Linked DNA regions of Homo sapiens. The protein of the gene in region 6 purifies or fractionates together with the protein of the main gene of each other region. This does not show direct contact. Each region holds a gene or a part of one and is shown on either strand. Other genes may lie near its edges.

Region 1 (4,281 bases), on a different chromosome or scaffold from region 6:
TCTAGGACTTGAGGATTCAGCTGTGAACGAGGCAGACGGGACCCCTGCCTCAGGGAGCTCCCTGTTCTGTGTGCATGTGTGTGTTTTGGCGGGGAACAGACAATAAAAGAGTATATCCATGCATTTTTCAAAAAGCAAGATTCATTTCCAATTCAGATTGGAGTTAGTGCTGAAAAGAAAATAAAACACAAGGCCGGGTGCGGCGGCTCACACCTGTAATCGCAGCACTCTGGGAGGCCAAGGCAGGCGGATCACTTGAGCCCAGGAGTTCAAAACCAGCCTGGGCAACAGAGTGAGACCTCCATCTTTACAAAAAAATTAAAAAATTAGTCAGGTGTGGTGGCGCATACCTGTGGTCCCAGCTACTCAGGAGGCTGAGGTGGGAGGATCGCTTGAGCCCGGGAGGTTGAGGCTGCAGCAAGCTGTGATCGTACCATGGTACTCCAGCCTGGGTGATAGAGCAATTTTTTTCTTTTTTTTGATGTTTCAAAAAAATTAAAAACAGCGACCTGATGGAAGGGCTACCTGACACCAGGTGGTCAGGAAAGGCTTTGAAAGCCTGGAAGGTTGGGCCATGGGGAGTCCTAGGATTCCAGGCTGAGGCAGCACACGTGCAAAGGCCCTGCGGTGGGACATTGAGGGAAGAGCAAGAGGAGACCCCTGTGGCTGGAGCGGAGTGAGCAGGGGGAGTGGTGAGAGGCGAGGTCTGCACGGACCAGGAAGGCCGACCATGAATTGGGAGGAGTTTGGATTTATTCCAAGACAGATAGGAAATTCTCTCTTTCTCTCAACCTCCATTTCCAAGCACAGAGTCTAAATTATTCTAAACACCACCCGAGGAGGCAGGTGCTGTACAGATGGGGAAACTGAGGCAGCACAGAGCGCAAAGGACAGGGGGGCGTCAAATTCCTCACTTGATCGCTCCCTCAGCCAGCCCCTTCCTGGAAAGTGCTTGGGTATCTTTGTAAGCCTCCGTTTCTTGAGAGAGGGCCAGGTTTCGAACCGCAGACATGCCTCTACTCTAGGTAAGACCCCTCTCTCTCTCTCCCGGCCTCGGCGGTCTGCTCTGTGCAATGGGGCCGGCCGAGACGCCCTCTCTCCAGCCAGAGTCTGAGCCTTCGGAGACCACCGCGCGACTCCGCCCCGTCGGCCGCCACTCACGCCCTCTACGGCTCTCCATTGGCAGAACGACCTGCTGCCCCGCCCCCACGGCGCCTTTGCGAGCTAATCATTTTCTTGAGACTGACAGCCTTGCCGGCACCGCCCCCCCTGGGGCGGGAGCAAAGCAGCTGCATATGCGGATTGGTTGAGAGGCAGGGGGCGGGGTGAGTTGGTGAGCGCCGATTGCGGGCAGAGGCAGTGGCACATGCGGATTGGCCGGAGAGAGCGGCGAGGCAGAGCATGATGAGTGTCGATTGGACGGCTGGGCCCAAGTGGGCGGAAAACGGACGGTGCAGGGGGTGGGCCACGTGTCCAGCCCTAACGAAACGGTAACCAGCCCTGGGAAGCCCGCAAGAGGCCTCAGCGGTGGCCGTCCGAGAGCCGAGAGGTGAGGGTGCCCCCGCCTCACCTGCAGAGGGGCCGTTCCGGGCTCGAACCCGGCACCTTCCGGGTAAGTCCTCTCTCGCTGCTGGCGCTATTTGGAGACCGACCTTACCGCCTAGCAGATGGGGAAACTGAGGCTCTGCCTGGGCGTCCCGGGCCAAGGTCACAGGACCAGAAGGAGGACTCCACCTGGCCCCGCCAGAATTGGCTGGCCAGAGATTGGAAGCGTCCCCGGGTCGCGCCTGCCGCCTCTGTAACAGCGCTGGGGGGTGGGCAGGTTTAATCCCCATTTCTCCGACGAGAAAACTGAGGCTAAGACAAAGAGAAACTTGCCCAAGGTCACACAGCCAGGAAGTCCGGGCTCCAAGGCCGGGTTTCCGAGACCGGGTGGGGAAATCAACGGCCCTACCCCGCCCCCTGTTGCCGCCCACCTCCAGCCACGCCCCCTTTGGCCTTGGGTACCCTCCACCCAGGCTGAATCTCTCCTCGTTCCGCAGGACACGCCCAACCCTCTCCAGCCCAGACCTCCCCTTCACATCTCTCTCTCTCACACACCCACCCTCACCCCAATTTTTCATCTCCCAAAAACCAGTTCCCCTCCCCGGGATCCCCTATGAATCTTCAGATCATGCCCCTCGCTCGACCAGAAACTGGGGGCCTTTCTCCCCGACTTTCCCCACCGTCCCAGCTGCCCCTTCCTGACTCTCCCCTGTCCCACTGGGCCCCAGCGCCGACCTCCTGCTCTCTGGCCTTTTGCCTCCAGTTCAACCGCACGGCGGGGGCCTGAAGCCATCTTTGTATTTTGCATTTTGAACACTTTTTCTGGAATAATACCACAAACGCAGAAAATCGAACGGTTTGCAAATACACAGCTTAAATAAATATTTATAAAGGGAGCACCCTGGTGTAAACAAGTATCCAAAGAAAAAAGTCAAACATGCGCCACATCCCAGGATCTCCCGCCGTCGTCGTTTCCATCACTGTGGTCCAAGGGCAGTCACTGTCCTGGCTTCTGACGCCATAGATCAGTTTTGCCGGGTTTTGGCTTTATGCCAACCCTTTATTGTATATAGTATTGACTAGACAACTTGTTGCACATTGTCCAGAATTCAGAAGAAACAGAATAGGACCCAGTGAAAAGGCTCCTACAGACTTCCCCGGTGCCTGGTTCACCCGCCTGAGTCTCCCGTTTCTTGCTTGTTTGCCAGAGATAGCAGATATAGATATAGGCAACACAGACACATTTTCCTCTCCCTTTTTTCTTTGGCACAAAAAGGAGCATTCCATACACACTGTTCTGCTTCTTTTTCACTTCTCTCAAACATGTTTTCGTATTGTTACTTAAAGAGCTTCCTCGTAATTTTTTCTGGCTGCGAGGAATAACAGAGTATAGTTATGGCATGACTTACGTAACCAGTACCCTCATTGTGGACATTGATACTTAACTTCTGCTCCTTTGCTCTGGGGAAGAGTCCTGTAATGAATAATCCTGTGTCGTTTCACATGAATGTCTGTAGGATAAATGCTTAGGAGCAGCTTTTGAGGTCAGAGGGTTTGTGTATCCATCATTTTGAGAAATGCAGCTGCTCGGCTGTCCCTAGGAGTTGTTGTGACCCACACTCCTACCAGGCCAGAGGGGAGTTCCTGGGTGCTCCACATGCCTGTCCTAGGCTTTTGGACATGCTGGCCCCCAGATCTGCCCCTCCATGGCTCCTCACTGCCCTCAGCAGAGAGACTCCAGGGCCCTTGTGACCCACCTGTCAGCTCTCCAGCTCCTGGTTCCCTCAGAACCATCCCTTGGGGCCCGGGTGTCCAGGTCCCGCCTCCTGCACAGGGGAGGAAGAGTTAGCACATGAGTGGCCGTGAGAGGGTCACTCCATGGGGAGGAAACCGCAAGGGCTGTTTGAGAGGAGGGAGTGGCTGGGCTGAGGCTGGAGGGTCTTCAGAGCAGTGCGGGGCGGGGGGGAAAGGGGCGCCTGCATCTTAGTCCTGAGGACAGAGAGAATCCACGGGGGTCAGGGGACAGTTTGAGACAGGGGAGTAATAGCTTTGTGTTTTGTGAAAAGATCATTTTTCTGTCGTCAGTTTCTCTAGGAGAACACTGCAGCCCCTGCCAAGCTGTATCTGACTCCCTCCAAATCCCACTTATCACAGTTGTAATTATGGGATTAATTCACTGTGGTTTTGTTTCAGAGGGAGTTTCCATTCAATTTTATTTAATGAGATAAAATTTGCACAACATAAAATTGACCATTTTAACCATTTATTCGTTTTTAAACTTGAGATATGGTGCACATAGAAAACATTTGCTATGGTAGATGGATTATGTTCAAAGAATAATAGGCCAGGCGCGGTGGCTCACGCTTGTAATCCCAGCATGTTGCAAGGCTGAGGCGGGAGGTTCGCTTGAACCCAGGAGTTCGAGACCAGCCTGGGCAACATAGGAAGACCCTGTCTCTAAAAATATAAAAATACAAAAATTAGCCAGGTGTGGTGGCATACACCTGTAGCTCTAGCTACTTGGGAGGCTGAGGTGGGATGATCACTTGAGCCCAGGAGGTTAAGGATGCAGTGAGCTATGATTGCGCCACTGTACTCCAACCTGGGTGACACTATGAGACCCTGTCTCAAAAAGAAAAAATAGTACAGGGAGGCCAAGGCAGGAGGGTTGCTTGAGGCCAGGACGAGAGAGAGAAAGAAAGACAAGGAACAACAGTGTCCTAACTACCCAGCTTT
Region 2 (3,500 bases), on a different chromosome or scaffold from region 6:
CAATTCTAATTTTGGGGATGTGAAGCACAGCAGCAAGAACTTCAGAGAACTATAACAATACTAAAGTCTTTACCAGCATGCCATTTATCCATCTTCTGGCGATGATAGAGTCCAGTCCACATACAATAATATGAAATTCTACAAAAAAAAAAAAAAGCAACTTTAGTTTTTAAATATGTAGTTGCATGATGATCTTTCAATGTAGATTCATCAACTGCAACAAATGTACCACTCTGGTGCAAGATGTTGATTAGGAAGGTAGTGTGTTTGTGGGAACAGGAAGCTCTATGAGAACCCAAGTTTTCAAAAATTTTCTGTTCAATTTTGTTGTGAACATAAAACTGCCCTAAAAAATAAAGTTTACTAATTAAAAAAAAAAAGCACTTGCAGAAAACAATTTGCACGTTCTAAGAAACCAACAAAAAAACCACAAGCACTTTTTACTGTAATCCCACATACGTTCTCAGAGCTCCAATTCCTTGAGTGAACTCTCATTCAGGTAAGCATAGAAACTTGTAGCTGGTCATGTCAGCTAAAACTAGCATTCTCTTTTCAGTCTATCAGCAACATTACTGAAAAGCCAACAGTGAGAGAGGAAAGCAAGTGAAGAAATAGCCTTGAAATAGCTAGCAATATTTGAATAGCTACCAACTAAAAAATTCTAAGAATCTAGTGAGCATTAATTTCAAGTAAAAAACTTACGTCGATAGAAAGTGTCGTTAAAATCTTGAATCTTGTTGAAATGTCTGAATACAAGTAAAGGAACTTAAGCAGCTAAGTTTTAATTTCTAAAATGAATTTGACAATGCCATAAGGAACACACTCTGCATATATTTACAACAAGAAATAAGTAATCAATGTTCACATCAGTGGAATTCAAGGAATCTGACTAAATGAACACAACTCTCCTTTCTGACAAAACTTTTCTGCCATTCCTCCCCTAACTACTTACTTTTTCTCATTCCTGAACCCCTATATCATTATATTTATGCCCTTGGTAGGAGGTATACTTTCTACTTTGCTTTGGTTTTTATATAAAACCATAAGCCCCAGGAAAGCAGAATGTGTGTCCTCAATCATCAGCATCAAGAAGAGATGCAATAAATGTTTTAGTGAAGGAAAGATGCACATTATAGTTCCTATTTTGCTAGGTGATTTTAAGAGTTACTGCAAAGCTCATTTTTTTAACATACAGAAAATTTCAACAGCTTTTTCAGTTGGTAAAGATTTTACTGTTTTTATTTTTTGTGGGGAGGAGAAAAAGTACGAATTTTTTCTACCTTTCTCATTTAACTCAGTTTTCAAGTTACCCTACCAAATCCTATTACCAGTCTTCCCATCCCTGGAGGCTAAAAAGGAAACTCCATTCAAAACTGATTGTGGGTGAGTCAATATAGCACTTAATGTTTTAATAGCACATGTGTGCAAAAACTTGTTTTAATTTTTCTAATGAATGGAGCAATTGTTTAATAATTTATAAATTATGCAACTTCTCTAAAGTTAAGATAAATAGTCCACTATAAATTTTTTAAAAGCAATACAGAGAAAAAAGGGACAATACATAGAAAAAAGGGACAATACATGCTTCCTCTAGATTTTTAATTCTTGCCTACAAATAAAGCTATGAACAATAATTTCAATTCTAGCCCTCAGTCATTCAGACCTCTATTCCCTTTGAATGCTAGGCAAGCAGGAGAACGAAGCTACAGCTAGAAAGAGGTCAAAAAAGAAACAAAGCAAACAGTGGAGGAATGGCAATCAGGGAACCAAGAGCCAGACTAAGAAATCTAATCTGGATTTCTAGAAAATACCCAAAGTTTCCCAGACCCACATAATGGGGATAGACAAACTGAGTGCCCCCCACTAACCAACCCACCCCCACCAACTCTTCCTTTTTCCCTACAGGGGCCTGTATTTGCATTTTTAAGCTCTTTATTTTGAAATAATATAGATTCGCAGTAAGTTGCACAGATAGTATAGGTAGGTACCATGCACCTTTCCCAGTTACATCTTACTATAGTACAGTACCAAAACCATGAACAGAACATTGGTACAATGTGTGTTTATAATTCTGTCATTTAAACACACATAGATTTGTGTAACCACCACCCCAGGCAACACACATAACTATTCGACCACAATAAAGATCTCTCTGCAGCCTCCACATCCTGGGCTTAACTGATCTTCCTGCCTCAGCCTCCCACATAGCTGGGACTACAGGCATGTGCCACCATGCCCGGGTAATTTTTCTAGTTTTTACAGAAATAGGGTCTCATTTGTTGCCTAGGCTGTTCTCAAACAACCAGGCTCAAGTGATCTTCCCGCCTCAGCCTCCCAAAGTGCTGGAATTACAGGCCTGAACCACCACACCCAGCCATCTCTATAATTCTGTAATTTCAAGAGTATTATATAAACAGAATCATGCAGTATATGACCTTTTGAGACTGGCTTTTTTTTTTTAGTCTAATAGTTGTGTAACAGTATCGCTCATGGTGGTCTTAGTTTGATGTGAAACATCTTTTCATGTGCTTTTCGTCATCCTTTTTAGTAAAATATCTCTTCCTATCTTTTGTCTATTTTCTAATTGAATTTTTTTTTGTTTTACTGTTGAGTTTTTAGAGTTCATTATATACTCTAGATATGAGTCCTCCATCAGATGCTTTACAAGTATTTTCTCCAGTCTGTGGCTTTTCTTCATCCGTTTAAGAGGGTCTTTCACACAGCAAGTTTTTAATTTTGATGAAGTTCAGTGTATCAATTTTTTCCTTTTATGGCTCATGCTTTTACAAAAAATTATTTTAATTTTTTAGAGATGATGTCTCACTACATTGCCCAGGCTGGAATGCAGTGGCTATTCACAGTATGACCACAGCCTACTATAGCTTCAAACTCCTAGTCTCAAGCAATCCTCCCACCTTAGCCTCCCAAGCAGCCAGGACTCTGTAGTGGTATGATAAAAGCTCACTGCTTCCTCAGTGATCTGCACCACCATACCCCACCTTTTACAGGTCTTGCTTTTGACGTGGCCTAAGCACTCTCCACCAAACCCTAAAGTTCTATCGTTTTATGGTTTTTTGTGTTTTTTTTTGTTTTTTTGAGATGGAGCCTTGCTCTGTCGCCCAGGCTGGGGTGCAGTAGCGCAATTTCAGCTCACTGCAACCTCAGCCTCCTAGGGTCAAGCGATTCTCCCACCTCAGCCTCCTGAGTAGCTGGGAGCCACTGTGCCCGGCTAATTTTTGTATTCTTAGTAGAGACGGGGTTTCACCATGTTGGCCAGGCTGGTCTCGAACTCCTGACCTCAAGTGATCCACCCACCTCGGCCTCCCAAAGTGCTGGGATTACAGGCATGAGCCACCACGCCTGGCTCATTTTATATTTTATATTTACACCTATAATCCATTTTGAGTTAATTTTGTATGTTTAGGTCAAAATTCATCTTTTAACTATGGATATGAAATTGCTCCAGTACGATTTGTTGAAGACTATGCTTCTTCCATTGG
Region 3 (3,500 bases), on a different chromosome or scaffold from region 6:
CCAGGCTCCAGCCCCTGCCCACCCATCTACCTTTTCACAGCTGCAACCTGTTCTGCAGTGTAGCCTTTGGTGCTCTCTCCTCCAGCTTCACCGTTGGCCGAGGGGGCATCGGTCCCACCTGCTTTCCTGTGGGTGGCATGGGTTGTGTCTGTGGGTGGGGGTTGGTCACCGGCAGTCTGTGGTTTCTGGTTGAGGGACTCAATCAGGGCTGTGCAAGGCAAGGAAACCATTCAGAGCTCCTGCTCAAGCAGGCTGCGTGCCTCGCCGAGCGGCCCGCTGCTTCCCACTCACTTCCCCTCCCAGCAAAGCCACCAGCTCCTGCCCTGATTAGGCCTGTGGGTGCTGGGGGGACAGTCATCTGCTCTCTTGAAAGCCATAGTCCTTAAGAGTAGGCAGGACAGGCCGGACGTGGTGGTTCACACCTGTAATCCCAGCATTTTGGGAGGCTGAGGCAGGCAGATCACCTGAGGTCAGGAGTTTGAGACCAGCCTGGCCAATGTGGTGAAATCCCGTCTGTACTAAAAATTAAAAAATTAGCCAGATGTGGTGGCGGGCGCCTGTAATTCCAGCTACTAGGGAGGCAGAGGTTGCAGTGAGCCAAGATGGTGCCACTGCAGTCCAGCCTGGGTGACAGAGTGAGACCCTGTCTCAAAAAAAAAAAAAAAAAAAAAATCCGGGCACAGTGGCTCACGCCTGTAATCCCAGCACTTTGGGAGGCTGAGGCGGGCGGATCACCTGAGATCAGGAGTTTGTGACCAGCCCGGCCAACATGGTGAAACTCCATCTCTACTAAAAATACAAAAAAAAAAACCCCAAAAGACATTTAGCTGGAGATAGTGGTGGGCGCCTGTAATCCCAGCTACTCGAGAGACTTGAGAGGCTGAGGCATGAGAATTGCTTGAACCCAGGAGGTGGAGATTAGCAAGATTGTGCCACTGCACTCCAGCCTGGGCGACAGAGCAAGGATCTGTCTCAAAAAAAAAAAAAAAAAAAAAGTAGGCAGGATAGAGGTCTTTTTCGTTTTACATGAACAAAATTAATTTTGTTAATAAAAATTGACATAAAATTCTACATAATTCATGGATAAATCTGTAGTAATTGCTTTATTTTTCAGATAGTATACTTATACATATATCTCTTTTCTTAATAAATTTAGGCAGAATTCTGATATTCTGATAGTCTTCCAAAAGCACACTTGGTTTTATTAATAAACCCTATAGTACTTTATTTAGAGTTATTTTTTTTTATTTGTTTGTTTATTTGAGATAGAGTCTCACTCTGTTGCCCAGGCTGGAGTGCAGTGGTGCGATCTCAGCTCACTACAACCTCTACCTCCCAGGTTCAAGTGATTCTCATGCCTCAGCCTCCTGAGTAGCTGGTACTACAGGCACGTGCCACCACGCCTGGCTAATTTTTTTTTTTTTGACACGGAGTCTTGCTCTGTTGCCCAGGCTGGAGTGCAGTGGCATGATCTTAGCTCACTGCAACCTCCGCCTCCTGGGTTCAAGCAATTCTCCCGCCTCAGCCTCCCTAGTAGCTGGGATTACAGGCGCCCAGCACCATGCCCAGCTAATTTTTGTATTTTAGTAGAGATGGGATATCAACACGTTGGCCAGACTGGTCTTGAACTCCTGACCTCAAGCAATCCACCCATCTCGGCCTCCCGAAGTGCTGGGATTACAGGTGTGAGCCACCGTGCCCGGCCTAATTTTTGTATTTTTAGTAGAGATGGGGTTTCACCATGTTGGCCAGGCTGGTCTCGAACTCCTGACCTCAAGTGATCTGCCCACCTCGGGTTCCCAAAGTGCTGGGATTACAGGCATGAGCCACCGTGCCTTGCTAGAGTTCATTTAATACTACTTTAATTGCTATTTCTTTCAGTGTATTTGGTTTTACTCTGCTTTTTGCTTTTATGAATCCAACTTATGAATCCATTTTTTTCTACTGAACTCATTCAAATCTGCAAATATGTTTGCATTGCACCACATTTTGAATAAGTAAAATATTCAGTCCACTGCACTACTCCCTATTTTTACCATTGGTTTTTTTTTTTTTTCTTTTTTGAGACGGAGTCTCACTCTGTTGCCCAGGCTGGAGTGCAATGGCATGATCTCAGCTCACTGCAACCTCTGCCTCCCGGTTTCAAGCGATTCTCCCGCCTCAGCCTCCTAAGTAGCTGGAATTACAGGTGCACACCACCACGCCGGCTAATTGTATTTTTAATAGAGATGAGGTTTCACCATGTTGGCCAGGCTGGTTTCGAACTCCTGACCTCAAGTGATCCGCCTGCCTTGGCCTCCCAAAGTGCTGGGATTACAGGCATGAGCCACTGTGCCCAGTCAACCCTTCAGATTTTTAAGATCTCAAAGTAGTGAGTTTAACAGACTTGGCATGTTGAGTGCCAAGCTGGGAAAAGTACCCTGCAAAGGGGACCCCGCTTAGCAGGACCCTCTGTTTCAGGTGGGATCAGTCAGGAAGCCTTCCTGGAGGCCTTTGCTTAGCTGTAAAGAGGAATGGGGGAAATGAGTTTGCCCAAGGGGGACACAGATGGTAGGAGACCAAAAGAAGTATCTGCTGTGCTCACAACTTGCTATTTTTCACATTTTTCTAATGCAAGTGGTTGGCCATGCCAAATGTCCTCTTCAATGTCTGGAGTCTATACAGGACATTAACTATCACCCTCGGCAGCATCATGGCTATTGAAAACCAAGCCCGGCTGGGCGCTGTGGCTCACGCCTGTAATCCCAACACTTTGGGAGGCCGAGGCGGGCGAATCACAAGGTCAGGAGTTCAAGACCAGCCTGGCCAACATGGTGAAACCCCGTCTCTACTAAAATACAAAAATTAGCCGAACATGGTGGTGGGCGCTTGTAATCCCAGCTACTAGGGAGGCTGAGGCAGCAGGATGGCTTGAATCTGGGAGGCGGAGGTTGCAATGAGCCGAAATCATGCCATTGCACTCCAGCCTGGGCAATAGAATGAGACTCTGTCTCAGAAAAACAAAAACAAAAACAACCAAGCCCACCAGGCATGGTGGCTCACACCTGTAATCCCAGCACTCTGGGAGGCTGAGGCGGGCAGATCGCCTGAGGTCAGGAGTTTGAGACCAGCCTGGCCAGCATGGTGAAACCCCGTCTCTACTAAAAATACAAAAATTAGCCGGCGTGGTGGCAGGCGCCTGTAATCCCAGCTACTCGGGAGGCTGAGGCACAGAATCGCTTGAACCCGGGAGGCAGAGGTTGCAGTGAACTGAGATTGTGCCACTGCACTCCAGCCTGGGCAACAGAGCAAGACTCCATCTCAAAAAAACAAAAGCAAGCAAAAACAAGCCTGTGGTTCCTGCAGATTAAATGAGGAAGGGCCCAAGTCTCTGGCAGCAGGTCCCTGTGTCCATTTATTCCAGGCACGAAACCTCAGTCAGGCCTGGGCCCCAGCGCCCTGGGTAGTAAAATCCTAAAGCCTCTGACAAGCTGACCAGCTGGGAAAACAGGCATCTGGAT
Region 4 (3,500 bases), on a different chromosome or scaffold from region 6:
CCTGGAGTCAGACAGGCCTGGTTTTGAGCTGGACTCCATCACTTACTAGTTCTATTACCTTAGGTAATAGGAAGCCTCGGCTTCCTTTTTTTGTAAAATGGGGATGTTAACATTGTCTCATAGGGTCATTGTGGGGGATCAAATAAGACGATATATACAAAGCTCTCAGCACTGTGCCCTGCATATCAATGCTGTAATTACTCCAGGATCCAGAGGAAGAACCTATACCCCTCGCGCTCTCTGGGTTTCTGCACGCTCTGCCCAGTGGCCTGGCACCTCAGCTTTAGAGGGCAAGGTAGAGCCAACCATTAATCAGATAGTGCTGGGACCGGCTGGGGTTTTCTGTGGCATCCCGTATCTTCCCATCAGAAGCTGGAAAGGGAATGAGGGGACTGCGAGAGTAGTGAGGGGTCCTAGATACTGACCTTCCTTCTGTGTTAGATGTTTGAACCCACAAGATGTTGGGGTTGGCCAATGCTCCCAGTACAACCCAGGTGGTAGGAATGACACTCTGAGTCTGTAGGTGCTGGCGGCCAGGCTGCCCCCGGGCACACAGCACCAGAGGAAGGAGATGGGCACTTAATACAAGGTTTCCAGTGCAGGATACCTTGGCACCTGGCCTGCCCATCGGGGGCAGAGCAGGCAATGAGAGCTGCTGCTCTATGCTGGAGTGGTTGAGTTCTGAGTCTACAGCCAGAGGACCTCGGCTGTGTGCTCGATGGCCTTAGCTAGGAAGTCACTTCATCTTGCTGTCTCAGTGTCATCCTCTGACAAGCAGGGATAATAATCCAAACACCAAGAGCTGCTGAGGATTACGTAAGGCACAATGCCCAAGGCAGGCCTGGCAGTGTCACACACACAGGACACGCTCAACAGATGGCTGCTCTGAGCTGTAAGCCCACAGTGACTTCAGATTCCTCATCCTCTGGGCTCCAGTACCTTCTAAAGGCTGCTGCCAAAGGGAGGATACCCACTGTGGAGAGCACCGACGCAAGCTCCACCAGAATCCCTCGCCCCGGTGGACTTGTCCTATTCTGGGGGACACTGACTGCCCACTGTGGGAGGGCCCCAAAGGGTGTCAGCCTCAGCCTCGTGGGACTGAAACGGAACAACCTCAAAGTCGTATCTGATATTGACTCGCAGGCGTAACAGACCCTCATCCAGCCTCTCTTTGAACACCTCCAGGGACAGGAGGTCAGCTCCTCTGTGGAGCGGCTCTGATTGTTAAGAGCTCTTTTCTCCCAAGCAGAAATCTGTCTTCCTGTCATTCCCACCCACTGGGCCTGAATGGTCCACGGGGACCATGCCAACAAATGCACCCCCTCTTCCCCAGGATGGCCCTTCAGATTTGGAAGAAAGGATCCCCTAAGTCTTCTCTTCCACAGGTTAAACTGCCTCTGTCCCCACCAAGTCCACCAGGCTCCAAGACGGCTCTTCGGAGAGCCCACCCCAGGCCTCAGTTGAAAAGGGAAAAGAAAGAGCTGGCAAGGGGGGAGTAACAGAGGAGAGGGGGTGGAGGGAACATCAGAGGGGCCATTTACAAGTGAATGGGGGTAAGAATGGAGCAGTTTGTGGGCTAAACTGGCCTCAGAAGGAGGTTTACAGATGTGCGAGGGGACCTCCTCATTGTTTAATTAAGCAGAAAGTGGATCTTTTCAAAAGCAATTTTGCACAGGGACTGGGAGGGGTGTGGGGAGGAGGGAGGTGGAGAGGGGATCAGCAAACAGGCCCTGAGAGCAGAGAAAGGAACAGCTGGCCCCAGAGAGGCTGTGAAATGCATGCTAAGCAGTTTAAAGCGCCCAGGAGCTCCTGCAGCTCCTGCCCTCCCTCACCAGCCACCCTTTAACACAAGTGGAGCAGGCAGAGGGGGCACAAAGGCAGGACAGGGGAAGACAGGCAGGGAAAGGTGAGGCGGCCATGTCTACACTTGGGGCCTGGGCAGGGGGCCTTGGGTCAAAGGGATGCTTGAATCACAGAGGCCAACTCCCAGCAGCCGCAATACCCTAAGCTGGTGGGTGCCTGCATGGCCGTTTCAGCGAGATGGCTGTTAAGACATCCCTTCTCTCACACAACTTCTTACTGGGTCAGCACACTCTGCTTCACCGAATTGTATATACTTGGATCTTGAAGAAACTTTTCTTATAGATGTCAAAGAGACAACCAGCTCAATAACATACAGAGCGAGCCCAACCTCCCATCTTACAGATAGGGAAGAAAGAGTCTGGCAGGAATAAGTGATGTGCAACTGCGCGTGCCAGGCTTCCTCTCTCGCAGTCTCACTCCCTCAGGCCTTGCTCATCATTTCTCCCAAATTGGCTGGGTTGGAAGCTCTCCCCTGGCCTAGGAGCCACGAGTTCCCTCATTTGTGAGGCTTGTCACATTCTGAAATCTTACGGCTGCTATTATTTCTGCTGGAACCTCCAAGACTCGCTTGGCCAAGTGGCAGCCCCTAGGCTGGGAAGTCTGCCAGATGACATATCTGGGCATGGACTTGGGGGAAGGGTAAGACTCTCCTAGCAGCACCAGGCCCCTGACCCCCAGCTGGGCTCACATGTGCCAGGGTGAGGCCTGGCAGCTGCTAACCAGCTCTGTTGGTGACCTAGGTCACCAACCTAGGTTACCATGGGTCTGCTGTGTGACCCATGCCTCTGGGCACAACAGGAACCAGGTGTAGGGACTCACAGCAAAGGAGCCAAAGACTAAGTGGGCCATTGTGCCTTCCCTCCCACTCCCCTCCTTTCTTCCCAGAGTGGGGATAGGCCCCTGCCTGTTCCCTGAACAGTGGCTGGAAGATGAAGGATAAAAAAATCTGAGTCCCAGCCCAGCCTCCCTACTTGGGTAACTCTGGGCAGGCCTCAGGTCCCTCCCTCCTTCTCTTTCTCTTTTAGGGGTCTCTTATCTCTTGGGGTCATCTGAAAGTTGAAATAAGTAGTTGTTGAACTCATGAATAAATAAATGAAGGAAAGCGTAAAAACTGGAAAATGTAAGATGTTAGAGTAATTCAGGGAGCCTCTTGGGATAGACGGTGATGGGTTAGTGGCAAAGCGCCAGGACTCTGAAATTCAGTGGCCTGAAAGCTAGTTCTGAATCCCAACCCTGCTATTTAAATAACTCTATGACTTGGGGTGAGACCCCTGACTTCTCTAAATTTTGGTTTCTACCTTTTATTTGTTTTGTTTTTTGTTTTTGAGACGGAGTCTTGCTCTGCGCCCAGGCTGGAGTGCAGTGGCACGATCTCGGCTCACTATACAACCTCCACCTCCAGGGTTCAAGCGATTCTCCTGCCTCAACCTGGGATTACAGGTGCCCACCACCATGCCCAGCTATTTTTGTATTTTTAGTAGAGACAGGGTTTCACCATGTTGGCCTGGCTGGTCTCTAACTCCAGACCTCAGGTGATCCGCCTACCTTGGCCTCCCAAAGTGCTGGGATTACAGGAGTGAGCCACTGCACCTGGCCTTGGTATGTTACCTCCTTAAAGAGACCTCTGCTGACCACCT
Region 5 (3,698 bases), on a different chromosome or scaffold from region 6:
TGGGAAGGGATGACTGTACTTTGCAATGTGAGAAGAACATGACATTTGCGGGGGGGTGGTACTGGTACAATGATATCATCAGGGTATTTTGTCCCCTCCAAATCTCATGTTGCAATGTGATCCCCAATGTTAGAGGTGAGCCTGGTGGGAGGGGTTAGGGTATGGGGGCAAATCCCACATGAATGGCTTGGTGCCATCTGTATAGTAATGAGTGAGTTCCAGCTCTATGAGTTCACACAGGATCTGGTTGTTTAAAAGAGCCTGGAATTTCCTCCCCTGTCTGTCTCTTGCTCCCTCTCTCACCATGTGACACGCTGGCGCCGCTTCCCCCTCTGCCATGACTGTAAGCTTCCTGAGGCCCTCACCAAGAGCAGATGCCGGCACCACACCCCCTTGTACAGACTGCAGAGTGGTGAGCCAAATAAACCTCTTTTCTTTATAAATGACCCAGTCTCAGGTATTCTTTTATAGCAACGCAAACAGACTAACACACAGCACCCTGGGAGTTTTATTCTTCATTTGGTGGTGACTCTTCTATTAGGTTTTTGTCCAAATACTTCCATCCCTAAGAATTTACTGAGGCAGTTCTAAATTAAAGAAAATGTGAGTAACAAAAGATGTTACAGAAGAGCCTTGGGCAGCCTGAGAAACGATGGGCCTAGCGGAAGTAGTTGGGACATTCGTGAGTAACCAAATGCCAGGCTTGATTAAAGGCGTCCACGACAGCCGGCTCCAGGGGCCCTTCCTCTGCCGCTGCCAAGTTCTGCTCCAGCTGCTCCAGGCTGGACATGCCCAGGATGACCGCGTCCCCGTGGGCACCCTGCAAGGGAGACGGCCAGACTTCAACCCTCTTCTGCTGCACAGCGACTCTACTCACAGCCGTCCCAGCCACCTCCCTGCTGAGATTTGGGATCTCTTGTATCCCATATGTCCAGAAAGAACTTAAGGTGCCTTGGATAGCTGTACCCATGTGACGCAAAACCTGTATCCCTTCCCCTACTGCCACACGACGCTTCCAGACAGACCTACATTCACAGCCCAGTTCTGCCCCCCAGCAGCTGTGTAAACGCGGCTAAGTTATTAAACCTCTCTGAGATTCAATCCTCTTTTCTATTTTCAACATGGTTATGGGTGTGAAAAATTATGTAGAGCACTTAGCTCCCATTTATTGAGCACCTACTGTATATATGCCAGACACTATTGCAACATCTAAGGCTGGAGTTGGATATAAGTGAGGAAGACATGAGGCACTGAGAGAGGGAAACTCCAGCTCCCACCAAAAGGATGAGACTAGTGGGCTTTACAGTTAAACCTGTGTTAAAATGTCTGCCCCTTTCATAGCTGGGTGAAACTCAGTTTCCTCGTCAATAACACTGGGATAGTCATTTCATAAAGCTGAAGGAATAATGAAATCCCTGCAATGAAGCTCTCATTACAAAGCCTGGCACTCAGATACCATCAAAGACCAATGAGAAGGCCGAGCGCAGGGGCTCACGCCTATAATCCCAGCACTTTCAGAGGCTGAGGAGGGCGAATTGTCTGAGTTCAGGAATTTGAGACCAGCCTGGGCAACATGGTGAAACCCTGTCTCTACTACAAATACAAACAATTAGCTGGGCATGGTGGCGCACGCCTGTAATCCCAGCTACTGGGGAGGCTGAGACAAGAGAGTTGCTTCGGCCCAAGAGGCAGAAGTTGCAGTGACCCGAGATCATGCCACTGCACTCCAGCCTGGGTGACAGAGTGAGACTCTGTCCCCCCAAAAAAAAAACATAGAAAAAGACCAGTGGGAAGAATGTTTGTGAGAGTTGAAAGAAAGAGAAATTTCAGAGGAATCGATAAACAAATGTTTCAGCCTTCATCTAAAGATATTGCTGGTTCCCCTGGAAGGGAAGAAGCTGAGCGCACAGGGTCACTGGTTACCTGCAGCTGTGAGTGGTGGTACATCCACCGGAGGGTGGCCGAGGTCATGCTGGGGGCGCTGGCGCCATACGCGGCCTGCAGGGCCTTCTCCACCAGGGCAATGCCCTCAAAGTGGTGCTCCTTCCAGTAGCTGGGAAGGGGGGACGGTGGCACAGGTGTCAGGGCCACATTGGGAGCCACAACCAAAGAGCCAACCAGGGCCACTGTCCCACCCCACACCCTGCAGCCCTGAGGGGCAGGTGTTCTCTCTAGCCATGGGTCTCCCACTTTGCTGGGCAAGAGAACCACTCAGGATGCTGGGCCCCTCAGCAGAGACCTCAACAAATCTTTATTCCTGAGGACTCATCAGCCTGCTCTTATTTTCCTTAGGGACACAAAGGCCGCTAAGATGGGTCAGGACTCAGCCCCAGGCCTCCTGGACCTCCCTCCAGAGCTCCTTCTTTCCTTCCTAGCAGGTGATTGCTCAGGAAAGAGCAACGACTTCAAGACCCCGAGGTCCAGGGAGTCTCCTTTCCTCCTGGAGGTCCCAAGACAACAAGAAAACCGATGGAGGGTTTGGAAATTCCCGAAGAAATTCAGGGGAGTAGGTGCAGCAGCGAGGAAAGGCCTTACCCCAGGAGCAGCCCAGGACTTCATTCCACATAAAGCTGACCCCACCCCAGCCATCCACACCAAGCACCCACAGCTTACCGATTCCTGTACATCTCTGCCCAGGTATTCCCAAAGAAGCGGCCCACGGGCTGTTTCCCATTCTTGTCCTCATACTTGTACTTGCCGGTCAGCAGGCCCCCTGAGGGAAAGCAGCAATCAGCCCCGGGGCCTAGAGTGCCCCAGAAGCTGCCACATCCCTCAGGGCTCTGGTCTAGGGGAGGGGCAGGGACCCAGGAGGGCTGAAGATGCAGCCTTTACGTCTTTGACCTCAGAGGTCAAAGTTTGTCAAACCCTCCTTGCTTCCCAGGTCCTGGGCTGGGCATCTGTGGGTCGGGAATAGGCTGAGACAGGGCCAGGAATGCTCCACGTACCAGCCAGAGGGTTGAAGGCATAGAACCTCAGTCCAAAGTGCCTGAGGCAGGGGAAGAGCTCCGTTTCCACCTGCCGGGTGATGGCATTGTACATGCCCTGTAAGGAGAGGGGCCCCGGGGGAGAGGGTGGATGTGTCAAAAGAAGAGACTTCAAAATTACCCTTCCAGAACCCTTATTTCAGACCTTAACAATTCTAGGACTTTAACCGTCTGGGCGTATACTTATTCTAACTGGTGCTGGTGAAAGAAGCTTATGCCCATGGAAAATTCATTCATTCTGCCAACTTTCATGAGCACCAACTATGGGCTGGTTGTCAGATTTAGATTCTTAAGCCAAAAGGACAGGGTCCCTTCCCTCAAGGTTTTATAATAAGGTCAAGTATAAACAGTTATAATCAAGTCATGAGGCAATCATAATAGACTAGAAAGTTCTGTGACCAGTGCCTGGCACCAAGCAGGTGTGCAAATATTTGTGCAATGAATCATGAGGAGGTAAACAAGGACCTGAGGTCTCAGGGTCTTCTGGGCCCATCTAGAAAGGCTTCCAGAGGAAGAGACACGTATGTGAGACCTGAACCATTCTCTCACGGAAGGGGCGGTGGTGGGGGAAGGGCTTGTTCCAGGCTGAGTGCAGGGGAAGGTAGGGAAGGAAGGGTCCAAGGTGCACAGATAGGCAGGAAGGAAGCAGATGCCCAGTGGCCAGCCTGAGGAGCTTGAATGGCATCCTGAGGGTACCTGGGAGCCATCTGCAGG
Region 6 (3,500 bases):
TATCTCAAAAATAAATAAATAAATAAATAAATAAATAAATAAATAGCTATTTTTTACCTTCAGATCAATGGAAAGCCACTGGACTGTTCTAAGTATGGTGATCAGATTCATGTTTATGTAGAGGATGAATTGGAGGGTAAAGGTGATGGGCAGTTGGTATGGGCAGTCTTGTTGTATTAGAACTGCAATAACAAATTAAATTCAAAATCTCAGTGACTTAACACAGTAAAGATTTGTCTCTGTCACGCAGAGTCCAGAAGGGTTGGGCAGCCTTCTCCTATCATGAAGTATGCTTACCAAGGTCATCTTGGTGGGAGAAAACAGAGCTTTAAGATCACTTTTATTTAACTTTTATTTAATTTTTGATGTTTTAAAAATCATTTTATTGTGGTAGGATTCACATCTAAAAAGCTGTATTTAGTGTATTTAAAGATCACTTTTAAAGGGCCAGGACTGGAAGTAGTTTACATAACTGGGCCCAGCTTGGCTGTTCAGAACTCAAATGGCTGTTCAGAACTCAGTCATACAGCCAACTCAGCTTGCCAGGAAGGCTGGGGAATGCAGTCTTTCCTGTTCAGCCAAGAAGAGAAAACAGTATGATGTATACATATCCTAATCTCCCTCCTCTGCAGCCACTTGAGGAGTTACTGCAGTCCAAGTAAGAGGCAATGGAAGCTTGGACTGAGGGTGAAATGAGATGAATGTATCAGAGAAAGATGAAAATCCAAAGAGTAAGATAATGGAGGAGTTGCTAAGAACATCTCTTAGGCTTGGAGCCTTATGTGACTAGGAGGGTGGTGATAGCTACTGAGAAAGGAAGACTGGTTAGAAATGGACCAGCTTGTTTTTTATTTTAGACATGTTGTGCATCACATGCCTTTGAGACACACAACTGGAGATGTGAGATAGGAAGTTGAATGTAAAGACTAGAAGCTCAGAAGAGCAGAAGTCTGAACTAAGTTTTGGCTTAGATGATTGAAAGCTTGAGCTTGGGTAAACTCTCTGAGGAAGAATGCAGAGTTCGTCCTTTCCTTCCACACTGCCATCAGCCTCTGCTTTCCACTGCATTGTCCTACCACCCTCACCCCTTGACCTCAGCTGACCTTTTGGAGGTCCCCAGAGCCCTTTTTCTTGTCCTTAGGTAGTTCCTTTTGGAACTCCCCGTCATAGCTGTTCTGAATTGTTAGTAGTAGTAGATTGGAGGAGTGCCCTCAAACCCATCCTACTCCTCCTGCCTTATACTTCACAGAGAAAATAGAATCTTTCAGACACAATTTTTGGCAGTGTATCTTCCTTCCACCTCAAAACTGTCATTTTCCCTTCCTCCCTGTTTCAGAGAAAAAAATGTGTATCTTTTTCTTAGGCTAACTCTCCCATCTGTGCTGTGGATCTTACCCATTTCTTTAGATCTCTGATATTGTTAATTTTATGAGTGATTAAGATTATCTCCTCTGGAATTGCTTGAACCCAGGAGGCAGAGGTTGCAGTGAGCCGAGATGGTGCCATTGCACTCCAGCCTGGATGACAAGAGCGAACGTCCATCTGGAAAAAAAAAAAAAATCTCCTCTGGAGCCAAATTGCCAGAGTTCAAATCCCAATTCCTCTATTGTTTACTCTGTGACCCTGGGCAAATTATTTAATTTTGCTATGCATCTTTAAGATGCAAATAGTGATAGTAGCTGTCTCATAGAATTGTTGTGATTTAGAAGTGTCTAGCAATAGTAAGTACTCAGTGTATGTTTTAATTTTTTTTTAATGTTTTGGCTCTTCCTCTTTATTCCTTCAAGTTCTTAAATATCTAGAACAGTTACATCTCCCCAATCATAAGACAACTTGCATGAAGTACCATTCAATCTTCCCTTTTTTCTTCATTGTTAACCATCTTATGTTTTCTGTCTTTACCTCTTCAATTCCCCATGGGTCCCCAGTCCATTATGGTTGACTTCTGTCCCATTTCTCCCATCTGTTGAAATGTTCAGAGGCCCAATTGCCAAGCCCAGCGATCTGTTTTCATTCTCTGAAATACTGCAGAATTGGCTGTTGATGACTTTCCTCCTCAAAATATTCTCCCTTGCTTCTAAGATGCTGCTTTCTTCCTTCTTTTTCTTCTTAGTTTTCTGATTACCTCTTTTTAGTGTCCTTGATGGGTTTCTCTTTTTAATTTTTACGTACTCAGTGGTGAGAAACTAGATTGGTTTTTCTTTTGCTGCTTAATGTTGGTGACCCCATGGTGTGGGCTAGTCCAAAATATGGATTAGGTGAAGCCTTCCAACGAGATCCGTGCTCATATTTCTGCCACTGTCTGGTCATCTCCACCTAGATGTCTTGCACAGTCTTCAGAGTGGATGTGTCGTACTGTGCCATATTTCCTTTTCTGTTCATATATTGCAGTCTAGTCACTAATCGAGAGAATCCTGGGGCTTCTCTGATACCACTCTTTTGTGTCTCATTCAGCTATATTGGTTTGACTTTGACATGTCCTTGAATTTTTCTGTTTTTAACCTCACTGCTGTAGTTCAGAGCTTTCTTCTCTGAATATTTGTAATTGTGTCAAAATTGGTTTTCTGCTTCCAGTTTCTGTGCCAGTTTCTCCTTCAAGTATTCAGTGTTAATTTCCTCAAGCACAAGTGTCTAATGGTATAAGAAACCTCCACAGACATCACTTCTGATAGAAAAAAAGACAAAATTCTTCCTTACTGAGGCTTTTAAGGAGCTTGTAAGTTACAGCCAGATTTGGCTGAGATTTATCTGTTTTATAATTGCAGAATGCACATTTACTTTGTTTTTGATTACTAGTACATCATTGATTTAATTTACAAATCAGAATTTAGAATGTTTGAGATGCTTAGATATTGATTGATGTATTTAAAGATTGGTTGATTGAATATAAGGCTTTAGATGTTGCCTTCCTGCTTTTAGAAATTGCTTGTTGGGTCAAATGTGACTTCAACATTATGGACTAGGGAGTTAGAGGGATTGGGATCTGTTTCTAGTTCTTCAATTTTTGTTGCTTTGAACATTTTATTCATCTGTTGCAAAATGGAGATTCTTAACTTGCTTAACATAAGATACGTTGTAAAGATCAGAAATATGCTACTCCTAAAGCAGTAAAAGGTTTAAGAAAAGTGCTTTTTAAAATTAGGAATGTGGTAATATTGTGTACTTATGAGTTTTCTAGTCCTAATTTTCTGTTTCTGCCACTTTATTAGAGTGAATGTTCATTTATGAACAGAAAATGTGGAGTAGATGGCATTGGAGTGTGTTATTTAGAGATCTTTAATGAATGAGATGATGAAATAGCCCAGTTACCTTAATATTAAGTAAATGCTAGGATCTTAGTGTATCTTTCTCCCAGGATTCTTGCATGTGTTTTAAAGTGACAACTTTATTTTTATTTGTTTGTATAAATGTATGGGGGTACAAGTGTAATTTTGCTACATGCATGGATGGTAGCAGTGAAGCCAGATCTTTTAGGGTATCCATCACCCGAATAACATACA
Region 7 (3,500 bases), on a different chromosome or scaffold from region 6:
ATTGCAGGAAGTGGCTGACTCCACAGAGTCAATCCACTTGCTGGAGGGGGTCCTGGTGAAAGAGTCTGAAAGACCACAAGAACTAAAAGAAGGAGAAAGAAAGGTCAACCACAAAGTGGCATTCGCCATGGTATTAACCAATTATTCATAGCACAGCCTGGGAAAGTGGAATGAACCTGCACGATGACAGCTGACATGCTGAGAACTTGATGCCCTGGGGGAGACTTGGCTGGGACAATGCAGCTGGAGTCCCTCCTCATGCCCAAAACCAAAACAGGCCACCCTCCTCTCTGCATCAAGGCGTGATTCCAGCAGCCAGGGCTATTCAAGTATTTCCTTCTGCAAAGAGTTGTCATCACTCCGCGCACATTTAAGCAGATCGCAAGCAGCTATTGACTCTGTTTTTCGCTGGTACCTCTGGACTGTCAGTTAATAACCTGGAGTTCATCTTGCACAAATTGTAGAATTGGTTTATGTGAAGCAGAGAAATGATCTCGAGCTAGATGTCAGCACCATATCCCCCGGCAAGTTGCTGCTCCTTTGATTTCAGAGATGTACCATGTAAGTCTTTAACAAAGTCCATAAGACCAGTCAGAAAAGATGAAGCAGTTAGGGGACCCAGAAGAAAAACTAAGTAGGCACAAAGGTGAGTTAGGAAACTGGTCAAATCCTAGCAAGCCCCAGGCTTCCATCGCAACCAAAGAAGTTAAGGAGGTGACTTTGTGACATCACTTTTTTCTTCTTTAGACAGAGTCTCCCTCTGTTGCCCAGGCTGGGGTGCAGTGGCACAATCCCACCTCACTGAACCTCCACCTCCTGGGTTCAAGCAATTCTCCTGCCTCAGCCTCCCAAGTAGCTGCGATTACAGTTGTGTGCCACCACGCCTGACTAATGTTTGTATTTTTAATATAGACGGGGTTTCACCAGGTTGGCTAGGCTGGTCTCCAACTCCTGACCTCAGGTGATCCTCCTACCTTGCCCTCCCAAAGTGCTGGGATTACAGGCATGAGCCACTGCGCCTGGCCAAGGTGACTTCACTTCTGCTGCACAAGCAATAAACCACCTGAAAAGAGGGTCTGTTTCCTAAGGATGCTATGCACAAAGATGTTCATTGCAGCATTATTTACAACAATGAAATATGGGAAGCAATGTAAAATCCAGCAATAGGAAAATGGTTAAGAAAATTATTCTACATCAATATGTCATTTTACACCCATTAAAAACAATATCAGACAGGTGCAGTGGCTCATGCCTGTAATCCCAGCACTTTGGGAGGCTGAGGTGGAATGATCACTTGCACCTAGGAGTTTGAGACCCACCTAGGCAACATGGTGAATCCCTGTCTCTACAAAAATAAAAAATTAAAAAAAAAATACAAAAATTAGTTGGGTGTGGTGGCACACACCTGTAATCCCAGCTACTCGGGAGGCTGAGCTGGGAGGATCATTTGAGCCCAGGAGGCTGAGGCTGCAGTGAACCGTGATTGCACCACTGCATTGCAGCCTGGGTGACAGAGTGAGACTCTGTCTCAAAACAAACAAACAAAAAACAAAAACCAACAATGTCTATGGAGAGGCTAAAATAATATTCATAAAATGTGATGTTTGGCATAAAGATAACAAAGCAGGATGGTAGCTGCTTGCATATATTGTGGGTCATAACTATGTAAAATATAAATGGAAAGAACACACATAGAAGTTTTAACAGTGGTGAGATCATGAGTGATTATTTTGCCTTTCCCTTTTTAAAGAATAGCCCACATTTTCCAAAATTAGCTTATATTATTTTTATAATAATATAAACCAGAGGTTAGCAAATTTCTTTCTGCAAAGGGTCATAGAGTAAATATTTTTGGCTTTGCAAGCCATACAGATTATGTTACAACTACTCGATTCTGCTGCTGCATGGAGAAAGCAACCATGCACAATACATTGTAAACAAATAGGCATGGCTGTGTTCCAATAAAACTTTAAATAAAAACAAGCAGGAGGTTGGATCTGTCCCATGGGCTATAGTTTGCTGATTCCATAAACCTCAATGAGACTTTTGAAAGTTATTCCATGTTCAGTGACATGGAATAATTGCCCTTTCATTAAGTACTAGCTATCACCCGGGGAAAGTTTTCTTCCTAATCACAGGGAGGTTATGGGTCCTTAGGAAACGGTCCAGCCCCTGGAAATTGCATTTGACAGGCAGGGTCAGAGACACAAGGCATAGCTGCTCGTGAGGAACAGCATTGCCTCTCTCTCCATCTCTCTGTCTGAGCTGTCACGCCCTTTCTCTTTGCCTAAGTTATTCCCTATGTCTCTCTGACCCCCTTGTACATCTCCCTCTGCCCCCAACTCCATCAGTTCCAGGAAGAGAAGGAAAGAAGATAGGGAACCTGAGTGGATTGTAGGGCCAGGGCTGGGAAGCTTGGGAAAGGGGGAAGATGTCTCTGTCTCACTTACATTGGATTCGAGGTCACCGGATGCAGGATGACCTGGGGCGCCCGGGTCGGCGTCTCCGGCACCGGCACCACATCTGAAAACCAGAGATTGAACACTCAGAAAAAAAATGTGAAGTCCACAACCCCCGCAAAGGCCTGATTCCTGGGCGACATGGCAGCCAATTTTTCACCAGATCTTGGATCTCTGCCCTTGGCCAATCTCCTTTCTCCTTTCCTGGACCACCTGGACTCTACCTGCTCAGCTGGACCAGGGTTCTGGATGACATCCTCAACAAAATTCCTCATTGTTGAATAGGGGGCTGCCAGAACCCTCAAATATCTAGCCTGAAGCATTCATTGGTCATCTCTGAATCTTTCTTTCTCCTGGGTTCCCTTTGGGATGATAAAGCCCCTTGGTTTCACATCCTCTCAGTACCCAGCTCAGGACCCTATGACCATCTCTTTCCTGCCACATGGCTCTAGACCCCTCCTCACCCTCGCCCAGTGTTCTACAGCACTCCACCCTCTCAGGCCTTTCCACGGTGCCTTGGGACCTCCTTGGGTCCCACTGTGCCCACTCTTTCTTCTCCACTTCCATGTTCAGCCATTATCCTGGAGTGTGGTGACTCCACTACCCTCTTTGATCTTAGGCACCCCCACAACATCTGCCTCCATTCATCCCAGAAACTCCTGCAATGCAGCGGGGCTTGTTCAGAAGGGGCTGCTTCCAGCTCACATGAAACTCACCTGGGAAGATGAACTGCTGCTTGTATTTGTAGTAGTGGGATGCTTGCAAAAGAAAGAAAACATCAAAGTGAGTGTCCCCAGGGAGACATCGCTTCAGGGACCAGATTGAGCTCTTACAGCCACCACATGGTCATTCTCTGCCCACCTTCAAGAGTTTCCATACTTCTGCAGACATCCCTGCAGACAAGGGACTGCAAACATGTGTAAAGAAACCAGAACTCTAAACATCCATGCCGACCCTCCCATCTGACATCTCACACTCCCTAAAATCAGACTGCTCCAACTCAAACAGACATTCTGACTACAATACCATTTTTGTGAAATG

The links.
Region 1: the proteins of DSTN (region 6) and ISOC2 fractionate together in Homo sapiens (co-fractionation; one large-scale study listed by BioGRID). This does not show direct contact.
Region 2: the proteins of DSTN (region 6) and UBA3 fractionate together in Homo sapiens (co-fractionation; one large-scale study listed by BioGRID). This does not show direct contact.
Region 3: the proteins of DSTN (region 6) and DNAJB12 fractionate together in Homo sapiens (co-fractionation; one large-scale study listed by BioGRID). This does not show direct contact.
Region 4: the proteins of DSTN (region 6) and URM1 fractionate together in Homo sapiens (co-fractionation; one large-scale study listed by BioGRID). This does not show direct contact.
Region 5: the proteins of DSTN (region 6) and AKR7A3 purify together in Homo sapiens (co-immunoprecipitation; one large-scale study listed by IntAct). This does not show direct contact.
Region 7: the proteins of DSTN (region 6) and KSR2 purify together in Homo sapiens (co-immunoprecipitation; one large-scale study listed by IntAct). This does not show direct contact.

The regions. Positions count from the first base shown.
Region 1 is NC_000019.10:55,458,843-55,463,123, reverse strand, and holds the start of ISOC2 (isochorismatase domain-containing protein 2), read left to right. Parts: upstream 1-1,481; 5' UTR 1,482-1,612; intron 1,613-4,281.
Region 2 is NC_000003.12:69,063,366-69,066,865, forward strand, and holds part of UBA3 (NEDD8-activating enzyme E1 catalytic subunit), read right to left. Parts: intron 747-3,500; coding exon 703-746; intron 139-702; coding exon 74-138; intron 1-73. UniProt on the Homo sapiens protein: Catalytic subunit of the dimeric UBA3-NAE1 E1 enzyme. E1 activates NEDD8 by first adenylating its C-terminal glycine residue with ATP, thereafter linking this residue to the side chain of the catalytic cysteine, yielding a NEDD8-UBA3 thioester and free AMP.
Region 3 is NC_000010.11:72,344,920-72,348,419, forward strand, and holds part of DNAJB12 (dnaJ homolog subfamily B member 12), read right to left. Parts: intron 209-3,500; coding exon 31-208; intron 1-30. UniProt on the Homo sapiens protein: Acts as a co-chaperone with HSPA8/Hsc70; required to promote protein folding and trafficking, prevent aggregation of client proteins, and promote unfolded proteins to endoplasmic reticulum-associated degradation (ERAD) pathway.
Region 4 is NC_000009.12:128,381,374-128,384,873, reverse strand, and holds part of URM1 (ubiquitin-related modifier 1), read right to left. Parts: intron 1-3,500. UniProt on the Homo sapiens protein: Acts as a sulfur carrier required for 2-thiolation of mcm(5)S(2)U at tRNA wobble positions of cytosolic tRNA(Lys), tRNA(Glu) and tRNA(Gln). Serves as sulfur donor in tRNA 2-thiolation reaction by being thiocarboxylated (-COSH) at its C-terminus by MOCS3.
Region 5 is NC_000001.11:19,282,073-19,285,770, forward strand, and holds the end of AKR7A3 (aldo-keto reductase family 7 member A3), read right to left. Parts: intron 3,043-3,698; coding exon 2,946-3,042; intron 2,714-2,945; coding exon 2,614-2,713; intron 2,054-2,613; coding exon 1,924-2,053; intron 821-1,923; coding exon 659-820; 3' UTR 501-658; downstream 1-500. UniProt on the Homo sapiens protein: Catalyzes the NADPH-dependent reduction of various carbonyl-containing compounds, including aldehydes, ketones, and toxic products from cellular metabolism or environmental exposure.
Region 6 is NC_000020.11:17,594,075-17,597,574, forward strand, and holds part of DSTN (destrin), read left to right. Parts: intron 1-3,500. UniProt on the Homo sapiens protein: Actin-depolymerizing protein. Severs actin filaments (F-actin) and binds to actin monomers (G-actin). Acts in a pH-independent manner.
Region 7 is NC_000012.12:117,528,491-117,531,990, forward strand, and holds part of KSR2 (kinase suppressor of Ras 2), read right to left. Parts: intron 3,218-3,500; coding exon 3,176-3,217; intron 2,524-3,175; coding exon 2,451-2,523; intron 568-2,450; coding exon of another isoform or gene 507-567; exon of another isoform or gene 56-506; intron 1-55. UniProt on the Homo sapiens protein: Location-regulated scaffold connecting MEK to RAF. Has very low protein kinase activity and can phosphorylate MAP2K1 at several Ser and Thr residues with very low efficiency (in vitro).